Linked DNA regions of Homo sapiens: all the other regions are reported to be linked to region 1. The links are microRNA targets in miRTarBase. Many come from high-throughput screens and were not tested one by one. Region 1 holds a microRNA gene; each other region holds the end of a gene's coding sequence.
The links. The annotated mature microRNA hsa-miR-4789-5p reads GUAUACACCUGAUAUGUGUAUG and lies in region 1 at 2,983-3,004, shown strand. An mRNA with a match to its seed (bases 2 to 7 or 8) in the 3' UTR can be bound and repressed. Matches are read on the target gene's strand: a 7mer-m8 pairs with bases 2 to 8, a 7mer-A1 pairs with bases 2 to 7 and ends in A, and an 8mer does both.

Region 2: miRTarBase lists C1orf52 as a target of hsa-miR-4789-5p. Seed matches in the 3' UTR shown: 7mer-A1 at 5,849-5,855 and 8mer at 5,029-5,036.
Region 3: miRTarBase lists GREB1L as a target of hsa-miR-4789-5p. Seed matches in the 3' UTR shown: 7mer-m8 at 2,811-2,817.
Region 4: miRTarBase lists SLC24A2 as a target of hsa-miR-4789-5p. Seed matches in the 3' UTR shown: 7mer-m8 at 3,692-3,698.

What each region holds. Positions count from the first base shown.
Region 1 is chr3:175,366,570-175,373,694 of GRCh38, forward strand. It overlaps MIR4789 (microRNA 4789), which reads left to right and starts at 2,971; the gene lies at 2,971-3,052. All of the region lies in intron 5 of NAALADL2 (N-acetylated alpha-linked acidic dipeptidase like 2), which reads left to right.
Region 2 is chr1:85,246,332-85,253,456 of GRCh38, forward strand. It overlaps C1orf52 (chromosome 1 open reading frame 52), which reads right to left. Exons shown (of 3, transcript NM_198077.4): 3 at 3,622-6,371. The coding sequence ends at 6,298. Among named protein-coding and RNA genes, the nearest start is that of C1orf52, 9.8 kb to the right of the region's middle.
Region 3 is chr18:21,522,200-21,529,324 of GRCh38, forward strand. It overlaps GREB1L (GREB1 like retinoic acid receptor coactivator), which reads left to right. Exons shown (of 33, transcript NM_001142966.3): 33 at 459-3,913. The coding sequence ends at 622. ESCO1 (establishment of sister chromatid cohesion N-acetyltransferase 1) reads right to left here. Exons shown (of 12, transcript NM_052911.3): 12 at 7,085-7,125. Among named protein-coding and RNA genes, the nearest start is that of GREB1L-AS1, 75 kb to the left of the region's middle.
Region 4 is chr9:19,509,520-19,516,644 of GRCh38, forward strand. SLC24A2 (solute carrier family 24 member 2) reads right to left here. Exons shown (of 11, transcript NM_020344.4): 11 at 1-6,883. The coding sequence ends at 6,634. The region is part of intron 4 of LOC105375988 (a long non-coding RNA gene); the gene reads left to right. Among named protein-coding and RNA genes, the nearest start is that of MAP1LC3BP1, 50 kb to the left of the region's middle.

The DNA of each region.
Region 1 (7,125 bases):
ATCCCATTGTGGTTTTGATTTGCATTTCTCTGATGGCCAGTGATGATGAGCATTTTTTCATGTGTCTGTTGGCTGCATAAATGTCTTCTTTTGAGAAGTGTCTGTTCATATCCTTCGCCCACTTTTTGATGGGGTTGTTTGTTTTTTTCTTGTAAATTTGTTTGAGTTCATTGTAGATTCTGGATATTAGCCCTTTGTCAGATGAGTAGGTTGCGAAAATTTTCTCCCATTTTGTAGGTTGCCTGTTCACTCTGTTGGTAGTTTCTTTTGCTGTGCAGAAGCTCTTTAGTATAATTAGATCCCATTTGTCAATTTTGTCTTTTGTTGCCATTGCTTTTGGTGTTTTAGACTTGAAGTCCTTGCCCATGCCTATGTCCTGAATGGTAATGCCTAGGTTTTCTTCTAGGGTTTTTATGGTTTTAGGTCTAACGTTTAAATCTTTAATCCATCTTGAATTAATTTTTGTATAAGGTGTAAGGAAGGGATCCAGTTTCAGCTTTCTACATATGGCTAGCCAGTTTTCCCAGCACCATTTATTAAATAGGGAATCCTTTCCCCATTGCTTGTTTTTCTCAGGTTTGTCAAAGATCAGATAGTTGTAGATATGCGGCGTTATTTCTGAGGGCTCTATTCTGTTCCATTGATCTATATCTCTATTTTGGTACCAGTTCCATGCTGTTTTGGTTACTGTAGCCTTGTAGTATAGTTTGAAGTCAGGTAGCATGATGCCTCCAGCTTTGTTCTTTTGGCTTAGGATTGACTTGGCGATGCGGGCTCTTTTTTGCTTCCATATGAACTTTAAAGAGTTGTTTCCGATTCTGTGAAGAAAGTCATTGGTAGCTTGATGGGGATGGCATTGAATCTATAAATTACCTGGGGCAATACGGCCATTTTCACGATACTGATTCTTCCTACCCATGAGCATGGAATGTTCTTCCATTTGTTTGTGTCCTCTTTTATTTCCTTGAGCAGTGGTTTGTAGTTCTCCTTGAAGAGGTCCTCCACGTCCCTTGTAAGTTGGATTCCTAAGTATTTTATTCTCTTTGAAGCAATTGTGAATGGGAGTTCACTCATGATTTGGCTCTCTGTCTGTTATTGGTGTATAAGAATGCTTGTGATTTTTGTACATGGATTTTGTATCCTGAAACTTTGCTGAAGTTGCTTATCAGCTTAAGGAGATTTTGGGCTGAGACAATGGGGTTTTCTAGATGTACAATCATGTTGTCTGCAAACAGGGACAGTTTGACTTCCTCTTTTCCTAACTGAATACCCTTTATTTCCTTCTCCTGCCTGATTGCCCTGGCCAGAACTTCCAACACTATGTTGAATAGGAGAGGTGAGAGAGGGCATCCCTGTCTTGTGCCAGTTTTCAAAGGGAATGCTTCCAGTTTTTGCCCATTCATTATGATATTGGCTGTGGGTTTGTCATAGATAGCTCTTATTATTTTGAGATACATCCCATCAATACCTAATTTATTGAGAGTTTTTAGCATGAAGCGTTGTTGAATTTTGTCAAAGGCCTTTTCTGCATCTATTGAGATAATCATGTGGTTTTTGTCTTTGGTTCTGTTTATACGCTGGATTACATTTATTGATTTGCGTATATTGAACCAGCCTTGCATCCCAGGGATGAAGCCCACTTGATCATGGTGGATAAGCTTTTTGATGTGCTGCTGGATTCGGGTTGCCAGTATTTTATTGAGGATTTTTGCATCAATGTTCATCAAGGATATTGGTCTAAAATTCTCTTTTTTGGTTGTGTCTCTGCCTGGCTTTGGTATCAGGATGATGCTGGCCTCATAAAATGAGTTAGGGAGGTTTCCCTCTTTTTCTATTGATTGGAATAGTTTCAGAAGGAATGGTACCAGTTCCTCCTTGTACCTCTGGTAGAATTCGGCTGTGAATCCATCTGGTCCGAAAATAGTTACATTTTACAAACGAATCTCTAACACATTTTGGTATCTTTTTTTATACTTTGAAAGGACTGTAGCAGGTGTGTGTGAGTGTGTGTGTGTGTGTGTGTGTGTTTATAGCCAGTATGTATATATGTAGCAAATACGTTCATGTGCCATTTAATAATGGAGATGCTTTCTGAGAAATGCATCATTAGGTGACTTCATTGTTGAGAGAACATCATAGAGTGCACATAACACAAACACATTGTGTAGCCTCCTAAACAACTAGGTTATGTCGTATAGCTTATTACTTCTAAGCTACAAACCTGCATAGCATGTTATTGTACTGAACACTGTAGGCAATTACAATGCAGTGGTATTTGTATATCTAAACATATCTAAACACAGAAAAGGTACAGCGAAATATGATATAAAAGATTAAAAAAAATTGCCACCCCTGTATAGGGCACTTTTCATGGAACTTGTGGGAGTAGAAGTTGCTCTGGGTGGATCTGTGAATGAGCAGTGAGCAAATGTGAAGGCCTAAGACGTTACTATGCATTACTGTAGGCTTTATAAACACTGTACACTTAGGTTACACTAAATTTGTTTTAAAAATTAAGTAATTGCACTAATGTCACAATGAGAACAATGCCACTAGAGTTTTTCAGCTCCACTATAATCTATGGAACCACCCTCATGTATGTGATTTGTTCTTGAGCAAAATGTCATCATGCAGCACCTGACTGTATATATATGTAGCAAGTATGTGTGTGCCTGTGTGCGCGTGTGTATATATAAATGTTACATTTACATACACCTGATATGTGCATGTGTAATTATATATGTAACAAGTATGTGTGTGCCTGTGTGCGTGTGTGTACATATACATGTTACATTTACATACACCTGATATGTGCATGTATACATATATAGGTAACAAGTATGTGTGTGCCTGTGTGCGTGTGTGTACATATACATGTTACATTTACATACACCTGATATGTGCATGTATACATATATAGGTAACAAGTATGTGTGTGCCTGTGTGCGTGTGTGTGTATGTGTATATATACATGCTACGTATGTATACACCTGATATGTGTATGTGTAAATACATATCCACACACATAGCAGGTGTATATATAGGTAGCCTGTGTGTGTGTGAGTGCATGTGTGTGTATGTGTAGCAGGGGTTTTGTGTTAGAACCAAGAGCTTGGAACTGGTACAATGAAAATATTTTGCCTGAAAGATATGCTTAGTAAAAGTCCCAAGTTTCACACATTTTTGAGGCTCAAAGTGAAGAACTCAAAGTGAATTATTAGGTAATCATATCTACTTCTTCCTAAACCCTTCATCTGATTGTGTGCTAAAATTTAATACTAACTGATCTTTCCATCTCCATAAAATTCTTTGAGATAACAAAATCCTACATTCCGGTTTCTGAAGGATGGTATTCTGCAAATGTGAAAGTTTCCCTTAACCTCCAAAAAATAATTGGGTTAATCCAGCTACCACAAGTGTGAAATTGAGAAGCTGCTTGCTAAGATTGAATTTAATATTGTCACATGTCATCTGAGAGCTGCTTGTCTGATCATGTTGCCACTGGACAAAGTAAGCCTTACTACAAAGGATAAAAGAATGATTATTTCAATATCCAGTCATAGTTCATCATCAAACTCTGAGTAAAATGGAGAAAAAAAGACGTTTTATCTTATATGACTCTATGCATTTCTCTGGGAAGTCATTTATCTGGTTGCTATCCAGGAGAGCAAAGATAATGGGAAAAATCTTCCACTATTCTCAACTATAATTTTAAATATCAAATTTTAATAAAATAGGTTTTGGTTATTTCTTTTAAAAGCCCTCAATATAAGAAAATGAAATGTTAGAAACTTATTTTATAAAATATATTTGTGAACCATAAAACCCCATATAAAATGGAAATTATTATCACCATTAACTACTGATGCTTCTAATCTTATTCTGTAATGGTTAAAAAATGACTAGAATTTAGAGTTACTGCCAATATATGGGGGGGGGAGGGATTTTATAAAAATAGCTTTATTCATTTGCATGTTAAGCAAGAGTGTGATTACTGATGGCCGTAAGAGTCACTTGCTGCTTTAAGCTCTGCTCTGCTGCTGACTCTACATGTGTAGCTTTGAGAGGTCCTTTAGCCCCTCCAGCTTTCCACATAGGCAGGATGTGGCTATTGTACTTGATGATATGCCAAACATGCTTCTGATTCCAACATTCGATGGTTCTGTGATATTTCTACCTTATTACAAAAGACATTCACTTTAAAAGTATAAACACCGTAGTAACTTTTTTTCTTTCATTGTTTTCAATAAAAGGGTAATGGAAGTAAACTGACAAGTTTAGGAGGCTTTCAGAGCATAAAGGAGAAAGGCTGGCAGCTCTTGAGAACCTCTTTGCTTTCAGCTGAGAGCAAGTAGAGAATGCTTGCTCTCTGGCCCTGAATGTCATAACATTATGTTCAGAATCATTGAAATGTCTGACAACACTGTTGATTAAAAATGAGAATCATTAGGCCATGTCTGCCGTTATAGGATGAAGGGTAGTTTGAACAGTATGGAAAAAAACTATCCCAAAAGGATGATTTGTCTTAGACAATATTACCAAAATTTCAAATTATACTATGTATAGTAATTTGCAGTAATTCACTTTTTTTTTATATTTAGCTTCATCTTAAAAGTTCTCCTTCATTGGTAATGCTTTGAAAAATGCTGGATTTAGAATTATGAAGAGACTATCAACTAATATTATGGATGATATTATTATTATTATTATTTTTTGAGACGGAGTACTCGCTCTTTCGCCCAGGCCGGACTGCAGTGGCGCTATCTCGGCTCACTGCAAGCTCCGCCCCCCGGGTTCTCGCCGTTCTCCTGCCTCAGCCTCCTGAGTAGCTGGGATTACAGGCGCCCGCCACCGCGCCCGGCTAATTTTTTGGATTTTTAGTAGAGATGGGGTTTCACCGTGTTAGTCAAGATATGGATAATATTATTTAGAAACCATTCTGTGTGCTACAAAAGTCCTTTGAGAATGATATGAGCTGGGCACGACGGCTCATGCTTGTAATCCCAGCTCTTTGGGAGGCCAAGGCGGGTGGATCACCTGAGGTCAGGAGATCAAGAGTAGCCTGGCCAAGATGGCGAAATCCCGTCTCTACTAAAAATACAAAAATTAGCTGGGTGTGGTGCAGGGGCCTGTAATCCCAGCTACTCAGGAGGCTGAAGCAGGAGAATCACTTGAACCCAGGAGGCGGAGGTTGCAGTAAGCCAAGATCATGCCACTGCCCTCCAGCCTGGACAACTCCATCTATTAAAAAAAAAAAAAGATAACCACTAAAATGGCTATTATTCATCTTTCAAAATCTGTAATACCTGGAAGTTCTGCATGACCTTTAGGAAAACTACATCCACAAAGCGTTCCTTCTAGTTTCCTAATAAGTTTTAGAAGAAATATTGCCATTCTGAGCTAAACTAGTTCTACTTCCTTAGGGCAAATTCCTACCATAACATGAAATAGACAAATATAATTACTCTAAAAAAAGTCCAGCCATAGCATCTTAGAGTTTAAAGGAATAACCCTTAGGAGTTCACAAAATTTTTTTTCCACTGCTTCCTAGGCAGACCTCATTTAGTGTAGCTGGCGTGTTGCCCTGCAGACTTTACTGAACTGCTAGTACAGGAGTCGCTATGTTTTTAGCTAGCCCATTCAGTTTTTGTAAAGCTCCATCATTACATTTTTCATCATACTGACCTAATACCTAGCTATATTTAGCTTGCTCACGCTCTGCCTTCTGGAGCGAAAACATGCATGTCTGTGCATTCTCTATATCTACCTAGTATCAGTTAGAGTTTCGTGTTTTCCTTCATGTAACAGAAAACTCATTAACAGTGGACTTCTCCAAATACTTCTCTAAATATTTTTCTCACAAAATGAGAAATCGAATGAAGCGTTGGTGTTAATTCAGTGTCTTGAAGATATTAGACCCAAGCTCTCTGTCTTTTCCTCATGGTTGCTGATAAAGGCTGAAGCTATAGTCATCATTGTAATATTCCACTTGGAGAAAGAAGAAAGGCACATGCCCACTAAGGCTAACTGATCTTTTAAAGGGTCTGTTCTTAAAGTCCTGACCAACATATGCCTCATTGGCCTTAACTAAAATGGGATTTGATGAAATACATTTTATACCTGGGCACGTTGCCATACTCAATAGAATTGTAATTCTATTAATGAAGAAGTAAGGAAAAATTGGGGTAGTATCCAGCAGTTTCTGCCACACTAACCTTGCAGTATTTTAGGATGGCTGTAAGATCCCAACTAAGTTTTCCCTTTCTCTGGCTAAAAGCAATTCCAGTTACCTTGAGCATTCTTTTTGCCATCTCTCATTATGAGCATCATCATCTTCCCAAAGTGAAGTGCTTTCTTAAAATATGTTAGAAAGAACAGGACATAGTATTACGTTTGTGGCCAGACAGTGGTCATACTGTCTCCTGATCTGTACTTAGTGTGTTTTTGTTCAGGCAGCCTCAGAATGAGGAATAATTTTGGTAACTACTTGGCTGCAATTGAACATGCAACCAATCAAAGCCATATGAAATTGTTTTACATGGAATGAATTGAAGCTCAGATTTCCCTGTTCCATATTAATTTTTTGTGAAACATATTGAGAAGTAACTTAAATATAAAAAAAAGCACCCAATTAAATGTAAAATTTGTTGAGTTTGGCCAGTGTAAACAGTTGTATAATCATGACCACAAACAAGATACAAGGAACGTTTTTAACACCAAAAATTTATCTTATGTTCCTTTTCTGTCAATCCACTGCCACCTAATCTAGTCTAACCGCTGATCTAATTTGCATTAATAAAGATTTATTTTGTCTATTCTAGAACTTCTTATCTATGGACATATGTAGTAATATGTCCTGTAGTAATATGCCTGGCATTTTTTGCTCAGCATGTTTTTAAAATTCATCCATGTTGTGTTTATCATTAATTTGTTCGTGATTATTGCTGAGTATATTCTATTTTATGCTCATATCAGTTTGCTAATCCATTCTTTTGCTAATTGTCATTTGGACTGTTTCCAGTTTGAAGCTATTATGAATCAAGGTAATATGAATGTTCACGTACAAGCCTTTTTGTAAACATAGATTTTCTTTTCTGTTAGCAAATATGCAGGAGTGAAATTGCT
Region 2 (7,125 bases), not on the chromosome of region 1:
AAGTGTTACTGATTGTAGTAGCCATGAACTTGGTTGAAATCTTCAAGAACAAGGGTAGAGAATGAGAAGAATAACAATGTAGACTACACTGGCAACCAGGGGCAGTTGGAAGAGAAGGAACCAGAGAAAATAGAACCAGAATAGCATGGAGCCCTGGAAGAAACCAAAAGAGTAAATCAGTTTTGCACTAATTGATGGTTTTAGTGGAAAAATGACAGAAAACCCAATTCAAACTTGTTTACATTGTTAATAAGACATATTGGCCCATATAACTGAAAACACAAGCCTCTGGATGGGGGGATAGCATTATACCAAGACAAATGAGAATCAACCCTAAGCCAGGGGTGAGGAATTCAGCTTACTTGCAACATTTAGCAGTCATATTGAGTGCCTACTATGTGCCAGGCATTGTTCTAGTCAATGAACAAAACAGGCAAAAAGTCCCTTGTCTGTGGACAGAACACACAAATGCCTCTTGGTATCTCCCCACACTCTCTTTTCATTGAAAGGCAATGCTTCAAAAAATTGGAAAAATTATCTATGTGGAGGAAGATGAAGAGAGAAAACTTTAGAATGTAATGCAAATTCCAAAACATTTGCTGGGAATTTTAACACGATTTTGTAGGAATATGTGAAACTTCTGTACTATTATGAAATGGAGGGGTGACATAGGGAAGCAGTACAGTATGGATAAAAATTCTAAAATTCCAAAATACCACCCATGTTTTAAAGTCCAGTTATGAATTCAGATTAGTCAGTTTTTGACTTAATCAAATTGAGTTGCTGCATTTATTCGGATTATATAGACCTGTAAAAATACTTAGAGGTTTCAAATGTCTCTGGTAGAGCTTTGTACCTAACTTGTGTGACATATTTTAAATGTAGATTATGTTCAAACCTGCATTAATCCATTCATATTTTAAATTTAAAAATATAATTAGCAATAAAAGAAAGCCTCATGCTCAGCTATTATATCCAACTAAGCACTACCAGTTTCTCCATCCCTCTCTTCTCTGAAGCTAACACACTGTACATCCATGGGTACACTATGTCAGCTCACTAGGCCTATTTTCCATTCCACAATTTGAAAATGATGAAACCTACCTAATTGGATTTTTGGAAACTAAAATATTATGTGACTAAACTTTGTGAATTCAAAAGCACTACACAGCATTAAATTTTAAGATTAGAAAGTTGCAAGTTTACAACTGAGTCCAGATCTTAGTGTTTTAATGGTGAAAACGCATTGCCAATTTTCTCAGTAATTTTTTTTGGCCAAAGCAGTTGAATCAGTAATATTTTTCTGATTCCAGTTAGAATGTTTCCCATAAAACTCTATGAAGCTATTTACACTTCAAATTTTAAAACATGGCCCACATATGCTTAGTTATTTTCTCAAATTACCCTGTACAAAAAGCCATTCATGCCTGATATGGTTTATTTCTTTTTTTTAGAGATGGGATCTTGCTCTGTCACCCATGCCAGGGTACAGTGGTGCATCATAGCTCACTGCAGCCTTTAACTCCTGGGCTCAAGTGATCCTCCTGCTTCAGCCTTTCCCAATAGCTAGGACTACTATCGTGCACCACCACGCCTGGCTAATTTTTAAATTTTTTTGTAGAGATGAGGTCTGTATTAGTCCATTTTCATGCTGCTGATAAAGACGTACCCAAAACTGGGCAATTTACAAAAGAAAGAGGTTGAATTGGGCATACACTTCCATGTGGCTGGGGAAGCCTCACAATCATGGCATAAGGCAAGAAAGAGCAAGTCACATCTTACCTGGATGGCAGCAGGCAAAAAGAGCTTGTGCAGGGCAACTCCCATTTTTAAAATCATCAGGTCTCATGAGACCCATTCACTAGCATGAGAACAGCACGGGAAAGATCTGCCCTCATAATTCAGTCACCTCCCAATGGGTTCCTCCCATGACATCTGGGAATTGTGGGAGTTACAATTCAAGATGAGATTTGGGTGGGGACACAGCCAAACCATATCATTCCACCCCAGCCCCTCCCAAATCTCAGGTCCTCACATTTCAAAACCAGTCATGTCTTCCCAATAGTCCCCCAAAGTCTTAACTCACTTCAGCATTAACCCAAAAGTCCACAGTCCCATGTCTCATCTGAGACAAGGCAAGTCCCTTCTGCCTGTGAGCCTGTAAAACCAAAAGCAAGTTAGTTACTTCCTAGATACAATGGGGGTAAAGGCATTGGGTAAATACAGCCATTCCAAATGGGAGAACTGACCAAAACAAAGGGGCTACAGGCCCCATGCAGGTCTGAAATCCAGCAAGGCAGTCAAATCTTGAAGCTCCAAAATGATCTCCTTTGACTCCATGTCTCTCATCTGGGTCATGCTAATGCAAGAGGTGGGTTCCCATGGTCTTGGGAAGCTCTGCCGCTGTGGCTTTGCAGGGTACAGCCTCCATCCCCACTGCCTTCATGGGCTGGCACTGTCAGTGACTTTTTCAGGCGCATGGTGCAAGCTGTAAGTAGATCTACCATTCTGGGGTCTGGAGGATGGTGGCCCTTTTCTTACAGCTCCACTAGGTGGTGCCACAGCAGGGACTCTGGGGGTTTCAACCCCACATTTCCCTTCTGCACTGCCCTAGCAGAGGTTCTCCATGAGGGTCCCCATCCCTGCAACAAACTTCTGCCTGGGAATCCAGTTGTTTCCATACATCTTCTGAAATCTAGGCAGAGGTTCCCAAAGCCCAATTCTTGACTTCTGTGTACCTGCAGGCTCAACACCACATGGAAGCTGCCAAGGCTTGGGGCTTGCATGCTCCGAAGCCATGGCCTGAGCTCTACGTTGGCTCCTTTCAGCCATGGCTGGAGTGGCTGGGATACAGGGCACCAAGTCCCTAGGCTGCACACAGCACAGGAATCCTGGGTCCAGCCCACAAAACCACTTTTTCCTCCTAGGCCTCTGGGCCTGTGATGGGAGGGGCTGCTGTGAAGACCTCTAACCTGCCCTGGAGACATTTTCCCCGTTGTCTTGGGGATTAACATTTGGCTCTTCATTACTTAAGCAAATTTCTGCAGCCAGGTTAAATTTCTTCTCAGAAAATGGGATTTTCTTTTCTATGGCATTGTCAGACTGCAAATTTTCTGAACTTTCAAGCTCTGCTTCCCTTATAAAACTGAATGCCTTTAATGGCATCCAAGTAACCTCTTGAATGCTTTGCTGCTTAAAAATTTCTTCCACCAAATACCCTAAATTATCTCTCTCAAGTTCAAAGTTCCACAAATCTCTAGGACAGGGGCAAAATGCCACTAGTCTCTTTGCTAAAACATATCAAGAGTGACCTTTGCTCTAGTTCCCAACAAGTTCCTCATCTCCATCTGAGACCACCTCAGCCTGGATTTCATTGTTCATATCATTATCAGCATTTTGGTCAAAGCCATTCAACAAGCCTCTAGGGAGTTCCAAACTGTCCCATATTTTCCTGTCTTCTTCTGAGCCCTCCAAACATTCCAAGCTCTGCCTTGTACTCAGTTCCAAAGTCACTTCCACGTTTTTGGGTATCTTTTCAGCAGTACCCCACTCTACTGGTACAAATTAACTGTATTAGTCCATTTTCATGCTGCTGATAAAGACATACCAGAGACTGGGCAATTTGCAAGAAACAGGTTTAATTGGACTTACAGTTCCACATGGCTGAGGAAGCCTCACAATCATGGCAGAAGGCAAGAGGAGCAAGACACATCTTATGTGGAGGGCAGCAGGCAGAGAGCTTGTGCAGGGCAACTCCCTGCACTGATGGTTTTTAAAACCATCAGATCTCGTAAGACTCATTCACTATCATAAGAACAGCACCGGAAAGACCCACCCCCATAATTCAGTCACCACCCATGACACGTGGGAATTGTGGGAATTACAATTCAAGTGAGATTTGGTTGGGGACACAGCCAAACCAGATCAGGATCTCAACATGTTGCCCAGGCTTAACTTAAAGTGCAGGAAACAATCAGAAGTATCAAGTGACTCGATTCTCTAAAATGAAAGATACTTGGACAGATGATTTTTCTTATGTATATGGATTTTTAAGACTTTTCCCCACTAGGTTTCCACTAGCTCAACCAAACTTCACCTCAGTACCCACATGGACACTTGTGCAAACACGTTCCCAGGACATCTCTAAAGGGGAAAATAATCTATTCTCTAATGTGATGATGAATGTAGAGTGATATGACAGTCCGTTTTCCAACCAGGAGATACAAATGGCTGAGTCAGACTTGCTCCAAAATATTTAGCCTCTTCCCTAAGTCCTGTCTTCCTCCTCATACAACATACTCTGCACATCTCCCAGGAAAGAGAGAAAAAAGTTTGCTTTCATGCTAACTTAAGAACCTTGCAATATTTCAGTAACTTCTGAGATATTTGCTCCACCAACACATGCATCCAAATTTTAGATTTCTCCAGAGCTTGGGAATCACAACTTCACAAATATAACTTGATTTGGTTGTGTTTGGTGTCATGTACATACTATGGTCTTGCTTTGTCACTTGATGCCACTCCTTAGTATATGATACCACAGATTTCCAAATTCATTACAAAGACTACAATCTTAAAAAAACATATTCTTGCTTTAGCAATTACTTCAATTTTGGGATTCATATATTTGCAAACCTGGAGGATGGGCAGCTATAGAATTGGTTTTTCTAAACTCGATGATATACTGGAAGCCATCATGCTGTTATGGACCTTCATTCCACAAAGCACCATGGCTGATGCAATCACTCTTAATGACTTTTATGAATTTTAATCTACTTGATACACATGCCTAGGTAAACAAATCTCGCGTAATTGTTCAAATTTTATCTTCCACAATGGGGAAAAACAGATTTAAAAAAAAATACTTAGATTATGTCTTTTTCTTTCTAAATTATTTTTTGTAAAGATGAGGTCTTATCATGTTGTCTAGGCTGGTCTCCAACTCTTGGCCTCAAGCTATCCTCCCACCTTGGCCTCCCAAAGTGCTGGGATTACAAGCATAAGCCACCATGCTTGGCTGTCTTGTTCTTATACACTGAATGTGCACTGTTCTGTAATTCTTATCTCTTAAGGGCTTCAGATTCATGGAAAGATTGATGCAGAGTGTAACCTTTTTATTGTTCAAAATGCTACAAATAACTGCATTTTGGAACTCAACGATCACACCTTCCCAACTACTTCTTGTTCATTTTATTATTACTATACGCAAAGCATTAAAATAGAAGCTGGGTAGAGAAAACATGTAGAAGTAGGGTTACCAGATAAAAGATGTTCAGTTAAATTTGAATTTCAGATAAACACATTTTTTGTATATGTCCTGAATATTAAATATACTAAAACATTATTTATCTGAAATTCAAATTTAACTGAATGTCCTGTAAACTTACAATTTAATAAAGAAATTAATGAATAACCATAAAGCACAGATGACAAGTACAGTCATCCAATCAGGAGAGGAAAAGATCTCTACTAACGGATCTCCAGGTACAACAGAAAAAAGTACCTGGAAGAGATGACAATTGATGTCATTCCTGAAAGATGACTAAATTTTGACTGGTGGACAGGTGGTTTAATGTGATGATTTTGAGGTTCAAGTGTCCCAAGTTAAATTCCAAATGAACCACTCACTAGCTGTGTAACATCAGACAAGCTACTCAAGCACTCTTTATTATAAAATGAGAATACTAATAATACCTTGCGCTAGGTTGTTTAAGGATCAGAGAAAATATATGCACAAAGCACCTGGAACACAGGAGGCACTCTTTAAATGGTAATACTTCTTATTACAACTTAAAATGTCACACGACAAATAGGGTACTTGTCACAGACAAACATTCAAATGTTAATGTTATACAGTAATAGTAATATTGAATAAGTAATTTTATTTCCATGATCTATTTACACTGTACAAAGACTGTTGAAAAGCACCCTACAAGTTCACAGTACATTACAATATATTTACTTTAAAAATATATTCCTTTATAAAAGGTTTATAAGAACATTGGCATGTCAACATGTGACAAAACTCTCAAAGCATGTCACCAATTCTGTGAGAGCAAGAATGCATCCAAGTGTTATCAATTTCACAATCACAAGTCACCAGTTGAGTTTTAAATACATACATGTTTTAAATAAAAAAAGAATTCTATAGTGGAAAGTTCTTGAGGCAATACTTATTAGTTCATTAACGTATGCATTTTCATGGAGATGTGGCATAATAACCCACAATATCAACTTAATCTGTCCAAAGAAACATTTCAACAAGTTTAGCAGTACAGAAATTCTGGTCATTTGTTTCTACTTTTTCTTCTTTGCTGGTTCTCCTGGCTCTACTTTGCGCTTTTTAGAAGTATGCTCATCTTTTTCATCATCTTTAAATAGAAAAGGAAGAGTTTCAATCAGTAATTTTAAAAAACCCAACATGTTAAGCATTAAAATTTCACTGGCTTTATACCAAAATTATTACCCTCATCAATTAATGTTTCTCTCAGAGTTTCCCAATAAAAAACAAGAATTAACTTTTAGAGCTCTGATTTTTAAATGCAAGTGAAAGTGAGCAATTTTTTTTTTCAATTGCAGCCATACAAAATTCACAAAGTAACTCTTTAGGTGCTATACTAAGGTAGCTTAAAATAAGTGACTTTACTTCCCCCAAATCAGACTTTTGAAAAAGGCTCCCAAATACTCAGCAAGCTTGTCCAACCTGCCTTATTTGTTGTTGTTGTTCTGTTTTGTTTTAGGCTTTTAGCAGCCTGAAGCCATGGTTTTTAGTTTCTGTCTCTAGTGATAAGCAGAAAAGAAGGATGATGAAGGGGCTTTATTGGCCCAACCAATAACAGAAACTAAGAACTCATGACTGTATTCTCTCCCTTGGACACCACTGCATGATAGTATTTACATTGTATATATTAAAATACAATCAATGCTTTGTAAGAATGGAGCATATTGTTTTCTTTTTACAAAAAATAGGTATCACTCTAACGATGACATTATTTAAGTGGCTATCAGCTGTCCTTTTCCTTTCAATCTGCTTTCTCTCCTCCAAAAACAACTTCTTCTGCCCCATCACCTTCTCCACCCACCCCAAATCCTTATTTTGAGGTTAAAAAGCACTCACAAGTAGGT
Region 3 (7,125 bases), not on the chromosome of region 1:
CAGTGGCTCACACCTGTAATCCCAGCACCTTGGAAGGCCGAGGCAGGTGGATCACGAGGTCAGGAGATCGAGACCATCCTGGCCAACATGATGAAACCCCATCTCTACTAAAATACAAAAAAAAATTAGCTGGGCCTGGTGGCAGACACCTGTAGTCTCAGCTACTTGGGAGGCTAACGCAGGGGAATTGCTTGAACCCAGGAGGCAGAGGTTGCAGTGAACCGAGATCGCACCACTGCACTCCAGCCTGGAGACAGAGCAAGACTCCGTCTCAAAAAAAGAAACAAAAAAAATTACTGAATTTGCAAAACTACTTAATAAAATAAAACAATTCTGATAGATTGCTTATCCATCTGTTGGTTCTCAGATGTGTTAGCTTAGGAAATATAATCAGAGATAAAGTTCTTTATAAATTCAATCCCTGAGCCTAGGACATATTTCTGTCTTTTTTCCTGAAGGTGCTACACTGTGTGTCATCTGCCAAGACAGAAGTTCCTTGCGCCAAACAATTGTCCGCTTAGAGCTAGAAGATGAGTGGCAGTTCCGCCTCCGGGACGAGTTTCAAACTGCTAACAGCAGTGATGACAAGCCTCTCTACTTTCTTACTGGACGTCATGTATGAGCTTTTGAAGAGACCAAAACAGCAAAAAGATGCCTAGGTGGGATGGGACAGAAACAATTTGGGATTTTTCTTTTTCCTTTAAAGTACAATCACTGTGGAGCAAAGTGCAACATATTTGTCTAAATTCTCCAAAGAACTCCCCAAATCTGATCCAGGTCTTTGGGGACATCACTTTCCTTCAGTTCCAATTACAGGACCCTTAAATTCAGGTAAACTCTATCCTAGGCAGTTATGCAATTACTTAAGATACGGTCTGCCCATGGGATCCTGAGGAGGATATACTTTGGAGAGTGAATATGGAGTTTGCATTATTTTTTTCTATTACTATGTTAGGGGGAAACTGACTGTCAGGATTAACTAGCCTGAATGTGTTACATGAGACTCATGCCATTGGTGTGGAATCAATTGAAGATTAACGTTTGAGGCCTGAACCCTCAGTTTCTCTTCAGATCTGTACTTTGGTACAGTATTACTCAGGGGTTTGAAATGATAGAATGTAGACGATATTTGTATTTAAAAAAAGAAGTAGCTTTGTCTTTCTCTGTGCAGTGTTAGTTTAAGATTTATAATCTTCTATGTATTGAAACTTTTGGCAAAATTTCCACAGGAGTTAGAAGTTTACTATTTAAACTGAACAAACAAATCAGTAAATGCAGAGCAGGCATTGTGTGCATTTATGCATCTTCTCCTAGCCTAATTCCTTTGCTTTACCCACTCTTTAAATGTGTTTCCAGTCTTTAAGAATATCTTATCTATGAGACTATGGAACAGTGATTAATCTTTTGCAAGAACTTAAGTCAGTTAAGAAGCTTTCAGCAGGTAACCTGCACCCACCGTTTGGTTGGAATTAAGCAGTTGGCACCAGCAAACCTAAATGTCAGGCTGAGGTTCTGTTGCAGAGTGAAACTAGTTTGTTTCCTTTCAGGGACTCAAGCAAAGCTTCCTTTAAAAGATGCACTAAATATTACCACCTTACACTGACAACGCCACAGAAATTGCCGAATTGGGAAATTGAGCCATAGAAAGAGAAATGTTTTTTTACTTAATCTTACCAGTGACTCTTGTGAGGAGTAAGGAAGACTCCATTAAGAGTCTTTTTGATTCATTAAAATCAGCAGGGGGTGTTTGTCCAGTATCGGCAATGGGAGGCATATGTTTCTACAGATTTCTCAAATATTTTAATCAAAAACATTATTTTTAGAAAGTGTTCTAGATAAAACTAAGTCTTAGAAGTTTACTCTTAAATTACTCCAGTTCTCATCATTGAACAATCTCTTGAGAGTTTTCTCATTAGCCCATATTTACTACTTTATCCCCACTTAAAATGGCCATTTTTACTTGAATCAATCTTGTTTGTGACCTGAAACTACTGAGGGGCCTACTAAGCCTGCATTTACTTAGAACAAATAGTGTTAATTGACCAGCTTTATTATCTTATGACAACAAGGAGTTTACAAAGCTAGTGAAAAAATGGAATGTATTAGACTAAAAATGGTTTGCAGATCTCTTGGTTTTAATATAGCTACTTATAATGCTTTAACTGTATTTTGAAGTGAACAATTCCTTTTAACCCCATTTTTAATTGTCCTTCAAAGAGGACCTGCCTTATATATGCTTTAAAAAATACTCCTTAATTTTAGTACAGCAGAATTTTTGGTAAAGAGGTATGTTTTGAAGCAATTTGGTTTAAATATGAATGTATTTCACTTGTTCCTGTTTTGTTGAAAGGGCCTAATGCAAATAATACCAAGAAACCCACTGTCTGTGCAATATTCCAATAACATTTACATAGGGCAAATAAAATACTTGAAAGAATTCTGAAACAATTGTACCTGGGGTGGATGGCCTCTCAGGGTTTCTTCTGGCTTTATGACTTCATAGTTTAAAGAACTTTTTTTTTAAGTAGTTACATCAGATGCAGGTACTCCATTAGTTAGGGCTGCACTCTGAAAATTCAAATTATTATTATGAGCTCTTAAATACTATTTAACTCTGGAAGAGATATGCCAGAATAAAGCCAAAAGACCATCACCCCTATAATGGAGAAATTGATCTGCCTATTCTTTTCAAAGCCTATCTTACTAATGTTTGGATCTTTTAAAATCATCTTATCATCAGTATAATTCTTGAGTATGTTAGGTCCTTCTTTAAGGATAAAATTGCACAAGCACAGGACACCATGATTTGTGTGTATATATATATATATCCTAGTGTGTTCAGCTTTAAGCTTTGCAATCCCTTAGGACACTGATGTGGGATGAATGGATTCGCTAGGCCCACACAGTAACTCACCTGTAGACCTGCTGAACCTCAGCATGTATGACAGTTCACACAGGTTAATACTGAATGTAAACGAAAAACTAGAAGACAATTGTTATAATTTTTTTTGGCTGTAATTTATGCAATTGCTTTTTGTGATTTTTAGAAAATGGGGCACCCGTGTTATTACTGTAAAATGTTCTTAACCAAAATTTGGTGAATTTCACTAGTCTACCTCACATTTTGTTAATGATTCAAAATTGTCTTGTGTCTACTGTTATATTTTTGTCCTTTGATTTAATTTGCTTAATGTATTAAAGTTATCTCCCACCCCCTCCAAAAAGTTATTTTTTCTTTATAGTTTTCTGGCATGTTTGTTAAGAAAACAAGCTCCCTGACTCTGGCAATGTCCTAAAAAGGCTGGAAGTCAGTCACATTATAGGTTGGACAACCAAGATTAAAGAGGTGTTGAAAACATACATAGTAGATACCAATCTTTTATTTGACAGATTGCAACTACACTCACTTTGATGTCCTTCTGGAAACAGAACAACTTTGGGTTGCTAAAACTAATACAAGGTGTTTGTTATTGTTAATCTCCAGTTAAAACTTCTCAAACTTTTTGAGAGTGTCTCAAAGTTGCTAGAACTATGTAGTATGAAGATGCTGTTATTGTAGTATGAATTATATCTTCTTAAAAAATTTTACCAACTTTTGAGAATAACAACTTTGTTGTCCCAGAAAAATGGCTTTCAATCTATTAATAAAGTGTAGTAAATTAAAAGAATTTGACATAGATTCCATGAAAACAATCTTCTAGGCCAAAGGACCCTCAGGAAGGGCAATAAATATTTGTAAGTGTAATGACAGACTTTCAGAGGAAAGTAAAGACTACTGGTGTTCCACTATACATTCCAAAGCAGCTGCCTTGAAAAGACTATTAATTAACTGTGAAACTGACTGCTGCAACATCACACTAAACTACTTAGGCCTGAAACAACATCCAGAGAACGAACATTTATCAAGCTTCTCTTTAGACACAGAAACTGGAAATTGGCCCTTAAAGCTTCCTCTGAGTCTAGGAGAATACTACTCTAACACTGAAACCTTGGCTTCACTGAAAACAAAACAACAACAGTAAAAATACTGCTAAAGATGACTTTAGGAATTGCCGCTAAGGCCAAAGAAAAAGTCATTCACATAATAAATTCACTGTGCTCTCAACTATCAAGTGTTGTTGAGTTAAAGCATCTACTTCAGTGACTATGACAATAGATGATGGTATTAAGTTAAAAAAAAAAAAAAAAGGCAACACCAGTAAGTTCTTTTCTGACCACTTCATTCCACATATTTTATTTTTACTAGTCCAGTGTATTTTATTTTTACCAGAAGGGTGGGGGTGGGGGGTTGCTAAAAGACAGAACTCATCCCTTTTTCTGCCTAAAGACTCAGGAGCCATGAGAAAGAAAATGTATGTCTAGAGTCACTACCCTAGAAATCAACTCACTCAGCAATCTCAACCCTAGCTGCAATGTGGATGGGCAGGAATACAGCTGTGTTCCCATCCAGAAGGATAAGACTCTATAGCTGGGCAGCCGTGCAAAGTAAACAAGAACAATTAAAATAACACTGCAGGTTTGTTGTACTCACTGACTGTCCTTACAACAGTCAGGCTTTCAGTAGATAAACCAAGTTCACTCTTGCATATTATGAAGTAGTAAAATACTGCTTTTTATCTGTGTGTCCATGCAGATAAAAGCATCGCCCATAAAATCTTGTAGTTCCTGACTATATTTGTGGCTCTTACCATGTCTCTATGCTAGATATTTTTATAAACAACCAACAACTACATGAGGGCTGCTAACAAAAAATCTATAAGCACCTTTATATAGTCAGCAATTACAGACTCACCCTCTTCTACAGTCTGTGGCCATTAGTGTACACTCACCGTGTCCCTGCTGCCTCCACCACTCCACTGAGACTGCTCTTTTCCTAACATCACTTGGGCTCTCTTCAGTCTTCAACTGTGGTATGACAGGGTTGATCATTCTTTGATTCTTGACATTTTTCCCTTGGTTTCTACCACTCTCTTCTGGCTCTCCTACCTTGCTGCTCATGCCTTCTTAGGCAGTCTTCTTTGAGACTCTTAAATGATGGTGTACCTCACAACTCTCTTCTACCTTCTCATTTTACAAACCCCAGGGTGACCTTGTGAACCTTCAAATAAATAAGTGAACTCATAAATTTGTTTCTCAGTTAGAACCTTTCTGAAACTCTAGATTCACATATCCAATTGTATACTAAAAGGTTTCTCCACTTAAGAGACTCTTTCTACAACCACCTTAAAATCTTGACCAAAACTGAGGACATCCCCATCCAATCCTCCCAACCTAATTCCCCTGTATTCCCATCTGTCAATCTAATTCAATTACCCAAACCAAAATTCCCACTTACCTTAACCTCTTTGCCATGATCTTTTTCTGGTTGTTTATAAATTCCTATCAATTCAACTGTGTCAATTCTTCAATTTTATCTTTTCAATGTGTATCTGTCTCGTCTTCATCTCCACATCACAGCTTTAGTTCAGTGTTTCAACACTTTTCACACAAACGGCTCTTAATTATCATCTAAGTTCCAGATTCCTCAATTATAAACCCTACCTCATAGGACTGTCGTAATGATTACATAAAATAATGCAGGACTAAACACACAGGGTCTGACACATAGCAAACACTCAAATGTTAGGTATTAACTAATAATACTATTCTTAGAGAAATACCTAAATTGTAAAATTTGGGAGGCTATATCTTCAGTATAAACATGAAAATAAACTGGTTTCTCAGTAATAATAACATATAAACCAACCACCCAATATACCCTCTTCCACCTCCAGGTCACCTTGAAACCAAGTCAAAAGTAGTCAAAGTAGTATACTATTGTTTATGGAAATTGGACCTGTATTATGGGATTAACAGTTACTAGAGAGTCTACACTATATCCCAAAATTTCATTCTGTTTTTTTTTTTTTTTTTTAAATCATGGTACCTGTCAGGCAAACAATGAGACCAGGATTGACTAGAACAGTCTCAAGCCCAAAGGGAAATGACAGTATCAAAAGCTAGGGCCAGGTGCAGTGGCTCACACCTATAATCTCAGCACTTTGCGAGGCCGAGGCAGGTGGACCACGTGAGGTCAGGAGTTCAAGACCAGCCTGGCCAATGTGGTGAAACCCTGTTTCTACTAAAAAATACAAAAACAAATTAGCCGGCCGTGGTGGCAGGTGCCTGTAATCCCAGCTACTCTGGAGGCTGAGGCAGGAGAATCGCTTGAGCCTAGGAGGTGGAGGTTGCAGTGAGCTGAGGTCATGCCATTGCACTCCAGCCTGGGTGACAGAGTGAGCCTCTGTCTCAAAAAAAAAAAAAAAAAAAAAAAAAAGCTAGACCAGCTTGATGAATCACGGGGAAATATTTACCGTGCCCTATCATTCTACCCATACAAAATGTAGAGTCTTATACCACTCTAGAAAAAAAAATTTTTTTTTGAGGTGGAGTTTTTTGCTCTTTTTGCTCAGGCTGGAGTACAATGGTGCAATCTCTGCTCACTGCAATCTCCACCTCCCAGGTTCCAGCTATTGTCCTGCCTTAGCCTCCTGAGCAGCTGGGATTACAGGTGCATGCCACCAAAACCAGCTAATTTTTGTATTTTTAGTAGAGACGGGATTTCACCATATTGGTCAGGCTGGTCTCGAACTCCTGACCTCGTGATCCGCCCGCCTCAGCCTTCCAAAGTCCTGGGATTATAGGCGTGAGCCACCGCGCCTGGCCTAGAAATTGTAAAAGCAAAAATTTATAGGGAAATAAAATGTATACCTGTTAATTTAAGGCCCTAAATTTTAGCCAGTTTTCAACTGAGATATGATCATTTCAGCTCACAAAAATAACCTAAGTTGAACCACAGTGGTAATTCATTCTTGGGCTGTGGGCCCTTCATTTATTTGCAACATCATAAAAGTACTATGTTACTAAAATAATCAGAAAGGATTTTGCCTTTGGAAATAAAGTTCAGCTGATTTGCTGCTGACACAATGATCCTTTGGCAAACTGGTGGAAACTGCCTTTAGGAAGCCAATGTTTTAATCATATTTCAAGATATCAAACCAAAAAAACACCCTGAAAAAGCACAAATGACAACACACCATTATTCTCAGTTAGTACATTGGTCACTTAGAAAAAGCTATCAAGTAT
Region 4 (7,125 bases), not on the chromosome of region 1:
TGTCTCTTATGAAGTACTATAAAGTGCAATATTAAAAAATTAAAAAACCCAAAAGGCATCCATTGTCCTTCAGTTTTATTCTGATAAGAATTGGGGATTTGTTTAATTAAATGGCAAGAAGTTATCTACCCTTAATTTATGCATGTAATTTCATCCTTAAAATAATTTTATTCAGGATTTCAGACTTTTTTTACTTTTCTGTTTTTTATGACATGATTTTAAAAATTAGTATTTTCTTTTGGTTAGCTGAGTATTTTGGAGAACTGTTAGTCTCCAAGGCCTTAGTTACTTATGGATCCATTATGAAGGAATATGCAACCCAATATGTAAGAATGCAGAAACAAATTCCCATCCTTTTGGTGAACCCTGGCCCATGAGATCAATCAGTAGCTTTACAAATCCTATCCAACCTACCACACAAAAGGATATAAACACACTGCAGTACTGGTTAATAAGTGGAGATCCAATCATTTATCCCAGTTTCATATTTAAAATAAAAATATTGATTCCTCTTGATAAATTAGTGGGTAAGTACAGGCCCAGAGTTTTGGAGTAATCTAAAGTGGTGTCTCCCCAATTTTGAGTTCTTTGTGAGTCTGAGATTATGACCTAATGACCTTAAAAGCAGTTTGTGACCTTGACTTCACCAGAGCTTCATGGTCATGCTGCACCCAGTATAGTTCAACACTGTTCAGACAGTGATTATCATTAGTCATAAGGTTCCATCATTTAAGAACAATATAAAGAACTTAAAAAGGCTTAGTAGAGAGGAACTATAAAAATTATTAAGAGGGTTAAAGACTCAAATAAAAATCTAAAGATAATTTTAATTGAAAATAGGTAAAGAGTCACATAGCGGTAACTTCCAACTATGGGGCAAAGAGTGAAGAGTGCCCAGATGCAGTTACTTTTTGCCAAAAAAAAAAAAAAAAAAAAAAAAAGTTAAGTCATTAAGTGGATGGGTTTGGGTTAACTTGGAGGGAGGCTTTTCTTGATGCTGATGGTTGTTAATCATTGAGCTGGGTCACACCAGCATCTATGCTGGGATCTCCCCCGTAAGAGGACTGTCCTTTGGATTAGCGTGATAGGCTAGACAAACCCTCTTAATGGAATTAAATCTTTGGTGGAAGCCTAGGCAAACTCCATGGCATTCTTTCAGACTTAGATATTTGTCTGTTTTTAAAGATTTTATTAGGTTTTCCAGTCTGTCAATGAATGATCTGGTAGAAGTGCTTTGGCTTAGATAATATGGTGCTCTACACAGTCCCTCACTGTTCGTACGCTAATTTGAAAACAGTTGCCTAGCCTGTCGTAATTGCAGGGTCATTTTTGCCTCTCGAATGCTGCCTGACTTGTGGATTTGCTTGTCCTTTGTAGCTGCTTCTTACTCTTTCTTAAGAAATCTGTCCCTAGCCATATTAAGGGCCTCTGTGGAGTTTGGGTGGTTCTGAGCAAGGCTGGTGCCCCATGTGTGAGGAAGGCATGCAAAATGCCAGTGTGTACATTAGCTGGGGGGAGTCATTGTGGAAAACAGATTCCTTCCAGAGCAAACATGAGTGTGCCTGTGATTTCTACAGACGACTACATGCTCCGGGTGATTACATGCCACAACCTGCGCAGGTCCAAAGCTCCTGGTGAAAAAGGAATATTGCCATGGTGTAATCATAAGTAATAGAGTTGAGCTGGCTGTGAGTAGTTCCCTTATTGCTTTTCTTGTTTGCTATATATTTAAAAAATATGAAGCTCTGAGATTAAAAATGAAACGCAAAGACAGAGGCAGAGGCAGAGTCAGGGAGCTAACAGTAAATAGAAGGTGGAATAGGGCAGGGTTACTTTTCTTACCCAAGGTCTTCCTGAGATTATTTTTTAAAAAAATCTAAAACTGTATATGGGCTCTTGTAATTGGCTAAACATAGCCTGATATTTGTTACTGTTTTAAACTACATAGGGATATATTTCCACGTGACACTTGTTTTCTTGGAATCCTAGGAAATTAATATCTCCTTTCTTCCCTTTCCTTATTATTCTATTTTTTCTCCTACCCCTCTCTTAATGACAAGGCCTTACCTAATAATTGAAGACAGTATTGTTGAGACAGGTATAGGGGTTGAGGAGGTATCTTTTAAAAATATTAAGCCGGATCGTTAAGGAATATGTGGCTTAGCAAGAGTGAGCACTGACTTCTATGCATGCTTTCAGGAGACAGTAGTTTTCTCCAGAAATCACCCTGAGAACAGCTTCACTTTGTTTCTTCTGGAACACAGCTGCCACCTATAATAGGGCCACCTACTTACCAGAAAAACAATCTGTCCAGGTGCAAGGAGGCATAGCATCCACATAATCTCGCGTGTGTGTGGGGGTGTGGGTGTGTGTTTGGTAGATGTGGGGAGGAAAGCACACTGCCATGTTCTGAAATGCCTGCCATCAGACCCATGTTAGATAGTCCAACGCAGTAATTTCTGCAGAGCATTTAATGCAACTTCCATCTTCTTCAGCTCTATCTGGCCAGCCACTCTACCAGGTGTCTTTTCTTTGGTCAACTTTTTGTTAAAGTGGTCTGGGGGTGGGCTCCCTTTGTAGCTCATCTCTTCTCTCACTGTTCCAGAGGCCTTTAAAAGCTATGTGCAGTGGTGGGGAGTTTGCCAACTCTCTCCCTGCCCAGGAATGGATGTACATTAACATTGTCAAATGTCTAATCAGCGAGGCAGCTGCGTTTTGCTGAAAGGGCTCCAAACCACCTGATTCATGTCTTCCCTATAAAATAAATTATGATGGCCCTTGTCAGGTGACACCTGTTAGAAGCCTTACAAAGCATTTTTCCTGAATATAAAACAGTCTCCGCCTCTTTTTATAATCTTCTGGGCAAGGCTTTAGGACATTCTGCTGCATCTGCCGAGGGTATAAACAACCCTATCCCTTAGTCCCTGCATATATCATTGCTCTGTCACTGCCTGACTCAGTTTAGGTCCTGGGAAGCTGCATAAACACCATCTGATCTTCAGCTTCAGTTCATCAGGATCTGGTCAGGTGCAGAGGGCAGCTGGAGTTGGCATGGGCATTCTCAGATGCAATTTAGGAGTTTCTATTTGGGAATTGTCAGTTTGAGCCAAGCTGCTCTGCTGCCTTGGAAGTATGGGGGAGGGTAGGCGGTGACAGCAAGCAAGACCTGCTCGGTTTGCTGTGAATAAATGAAATCATTTGCGTGCAACTCATTTATTTTAGATTGATTAGTACAATGTTGGCTCTTGAATTGTTGATATCTTTTATACCCTGCTCCAGAGAAGCAAAGAGAGTATCTGCAGTCTAAATTTTTGCTTTGTATTTTCTGTTGTGTATTCTTTGCCTCTATATCAGCATTAGGGATATGGCTGACCGATTTCCTTAAGGCTATAAATTGATATTCTTAGGGTGGGAAAATATGGGTACATATGTGTATATTTGTAAATATATGTGCATGGAACAAACAACCTTATGAAATCAGGAAGAAATGTTCCCTTTGGTTTGTGTGCATGACTTTCCTTTTCCTTGACTTTGGCAAACTTGATGCTCCCTGCTTTAGAATCCTGAATGTGATAGGGTCAGAGGGTGATGATGTAAGTCATATTATATGTGTACATATAGATCTGGTATAAAGATATATATATATATATATATATGTATATATATATATATGTATATATTTATATATGTATATACACAGGCATGCAGGAAACGAGTTAGAGATGACCTGTTTTGGAAACCACGGTGTGGAAAGTTCTTATAATTATGCCAATGATTTGAATGGTTTAAAGACCCATTGTTGAACTCTGTACACATCTCTCTGAATTTACCCTGGCTCAACACATAACCACTTACAGACACAGAAATGAAGGGAAAGCAAGGGCAGGCTGTGGAATCACTTGTGTCCCATCCAGTGAGGGAGCAGTGCTGTTGTAGGTCAGGCTCAGTGCACATGACTGATGTGGGAACGGGGCTTGGAAATTTTGTCTTCTCAAATGCAACTTCACATGAAAGACCACAACACTTCCTGTGAAGTGGAGCTCCGAGACAAGCAAAGGGCACCATAGCTGCTTTGATCAGCCTTCACTGTAAGCTGGGAATAAATGGGAGGGAGTGAGGAGGCAGAGGGAGGATCAGGAATAAGAAGAGGGCGGCATCAGGTCTCCTTCAACTTCTGTTTTACATGGTCTGTTTGCAGTTGAGTCAGTCACCTATTTAAACCTTATTTCAAACAACGCACCAGTCAATAATATAAAATTCACACAATAACCAACTTGGTTGCCCTTCAAGAAATACACAGGGAAAACAACTGGAGTTTTTAAACGTAAAGTTCACTTCCTCATTCTTTCACTCTCTAAGGAAGCAGGACAAATTCTTGCCCCAGTACAAAGTCCTGACCTTGATGAATGAGATTCATTCCCATTAGGTGGCAGGTTCCACTCAGCGCCTCTATTGGATGGTGTTTCAATGTCTTGGAAGGCATTGTCCCACATCTGAAGACCCCAATCTGCCGAGTTGGAGAGACTTGAAAGCCAGCCTCCGACTGGCAGCCATCTTGATTTCTTGTTTTCCCAGGGGGCCTCGGGTTTGAAGTGCTTTTTACTTCTGGGTGAAGAGGAATGATGGGCATTTCCTGTTATTGCCATGCTCTGTGGGGTGAGCTGAGGTTTTCTGGAAGGAATACTGAGCTTGATCTGGGGCTGTCAGGTTACCTTTCCTCTTATTCTGCTGTGAGTTCTGCATCCTGTCCTCTTATGTTAAGAGGTATGTGCTCACAACAAAATCATAGCAGGCGTCAATGACAGAATAGATTGGAGATAGGAACACATATGGTGAAATTTCCCATATGCCATATGTACCAACTTAGACGTAGGATGGGTACAGAATAATGAACCATCCTTGATTCAATTTTTCAACTGATTTTAAGGAAAGCATGACTTGGAGAAAAGAAAAGTGCTCTACATAGTTTTCCATTGATTCAGTTTGCCTATTTTTTCCCCCTTGCTGGCTTTATTTTCGACTGACATAGATCTGAGAAAACACACAAGGTGTCATACAGAACTTGGGGGCGTGGAATATTTTAATTTCATGCATTCAATGTAATGTTGAGCAAAATCAAGAAATCAAATTGTTGGAGTGAATAGCTTGAAACCAGTATAAGGAAGCTGTCAAATACCGTGTACTCTAAAACTTAGACAGAATCCCAGATAAGGTCTTGATGGAAGAAGAGACATAGATGTTACAAGAACTTTAACCAAAGCCTGGTCCTGGTACCACTCGACCTGGCACTCAGAAACCTTCCTGGGGTGCACTGAGTGTGCAAATGCCTTTCCAAGCATCGCTAAGTTGCCTCAACCCAAGCAGTGCTGATCAGAGTTAAGTTAGTGCTATTGGGAATAATGATTTCTTCAGACACTAAAGCCCTTTATGACTACACTGGAAAACGTTTTAAAGAACTATGCCCTTACATCCCATTAGGTGGCAAGGCCCACTAAGCACCTTTACTGGATGACTTCTTATTGCACATCTAGGCTCTCTTGGCAGCCCTTAGCATCAAAATATATCTACATGACAATCACAGCTAAACTTACCCCTCTTCTTTTGATGATAATGGGACATGCGCTGGAAAAATACAGGTTCAGTTTATATAGTCTTGCTGTCCTAGAAAAAGCACTAATTTGGTTTGTAGTCATATTTTCTACTTGCATGCTGGGACAATATAAGAACAAAACAAAACAACCCAACCCTGGTTACCTCCCCACTTCCCCAAACCAAGCCACCCAGCCTGGGTTTTTACCTCTTTCTGTCCTAAGTACCCTGAGTTTCTTGGTCAGGGTACTCTGGTGGAGGTGGGCAGATAGTCTCTCTGTTTGGCTTGTAGGAATGTTTTGGAAGGCTCAACTCAGGGCCCCTACAGACCTTCTCCACTAAGCCCTCCTCCCTGCAAGCTATTTCCCTAAACCATCTACCTTACTAGGCAGGATCACAGCAAGTCCAAGGTAGGCTGAAGGTCACAGCAATGCTACCTTTGTCTTGTTGGTTCCATTAGTTCACCTCTTGTACTTAAGAGGTAAAGCCCAGACTGCAAGTTGATGCCCCTCTTCAAATAAGTACTATAAATATACTAGAGCTATCCCTGAAAAGATGCATTTGTACTTTTATATATATCTGATTTTATATATATATATATAATTTTTCTTTGTCTTTATTTACAGGTATGTACTAATCTATAGGTATGCAAGGAGAGGTATAGTACAGGAACAGGCAGGATTTGTGTGTTCATGTGCGTATATTTATAATATGTGTATTTATAGATATATATAGCCTGTGTCCTTGTTTGCATCGACTGTACCTCCGACCAGCGAGGTGTACTTGTCAGTGGTGAATAGGGAGAAGCCCTGTATTGACGGTTCTCTTTGTCTTTTACATGAAGTCATTTCAGTAGGCAGGGTGGAAGCAGCCTGTGAAGTGAATGGGCCCAGTGTGAATCCATCTCTCCTCAAATTCACCAAGGAGGGACACTTGGCACCCAGGGCTGTGTGCCAGCTGCCTCTTCTCAAGAGGTCAAGGAGCCCAGAGCCCAGAGTGTGGAGGGACCATTCATGCTGCTGGTGCAAGATATGGCTTTTCCTGCTAGATGGAGACGGGGCATGTAAGAATTCTGTCTTCTAGGAGAACGCTCACCACCAGGAACACAAAGTAGAGGCCAAACATGATGAAGCCCAGGATTTTGTTCATTCGCCACTTGCAGAGGGCGATAGAGAGGATGACGAAGAGCAGCATGATGAAGAGAAGGACGATGGCACAGAAAAGGCCATTGCTGCTGACAGCCACTGGCTGGAATCTGTGAATGACGGTGTACAGGAGCCAGGGCAGTGGGAGCCTGTGCAGAAGTGAAGCAGGGCAGAGGGGAGTGGGAAGACAAGGGAGTAGTCAGACACGTTGAAGAAGGCAAATATAACCTATTATTACCTTCTCAGGAACTCTAAACTGAAAAGGGTGTCTTGTTAGGTTCACTATGACTCGGGCATGGTTGGCCCAGGAAACCACTTTATAAGGAAATAAGACTTTAAAAACCTTTATGTCCTGACTGAATTCAGAACAGGGAGAACAGTTAGACAACAT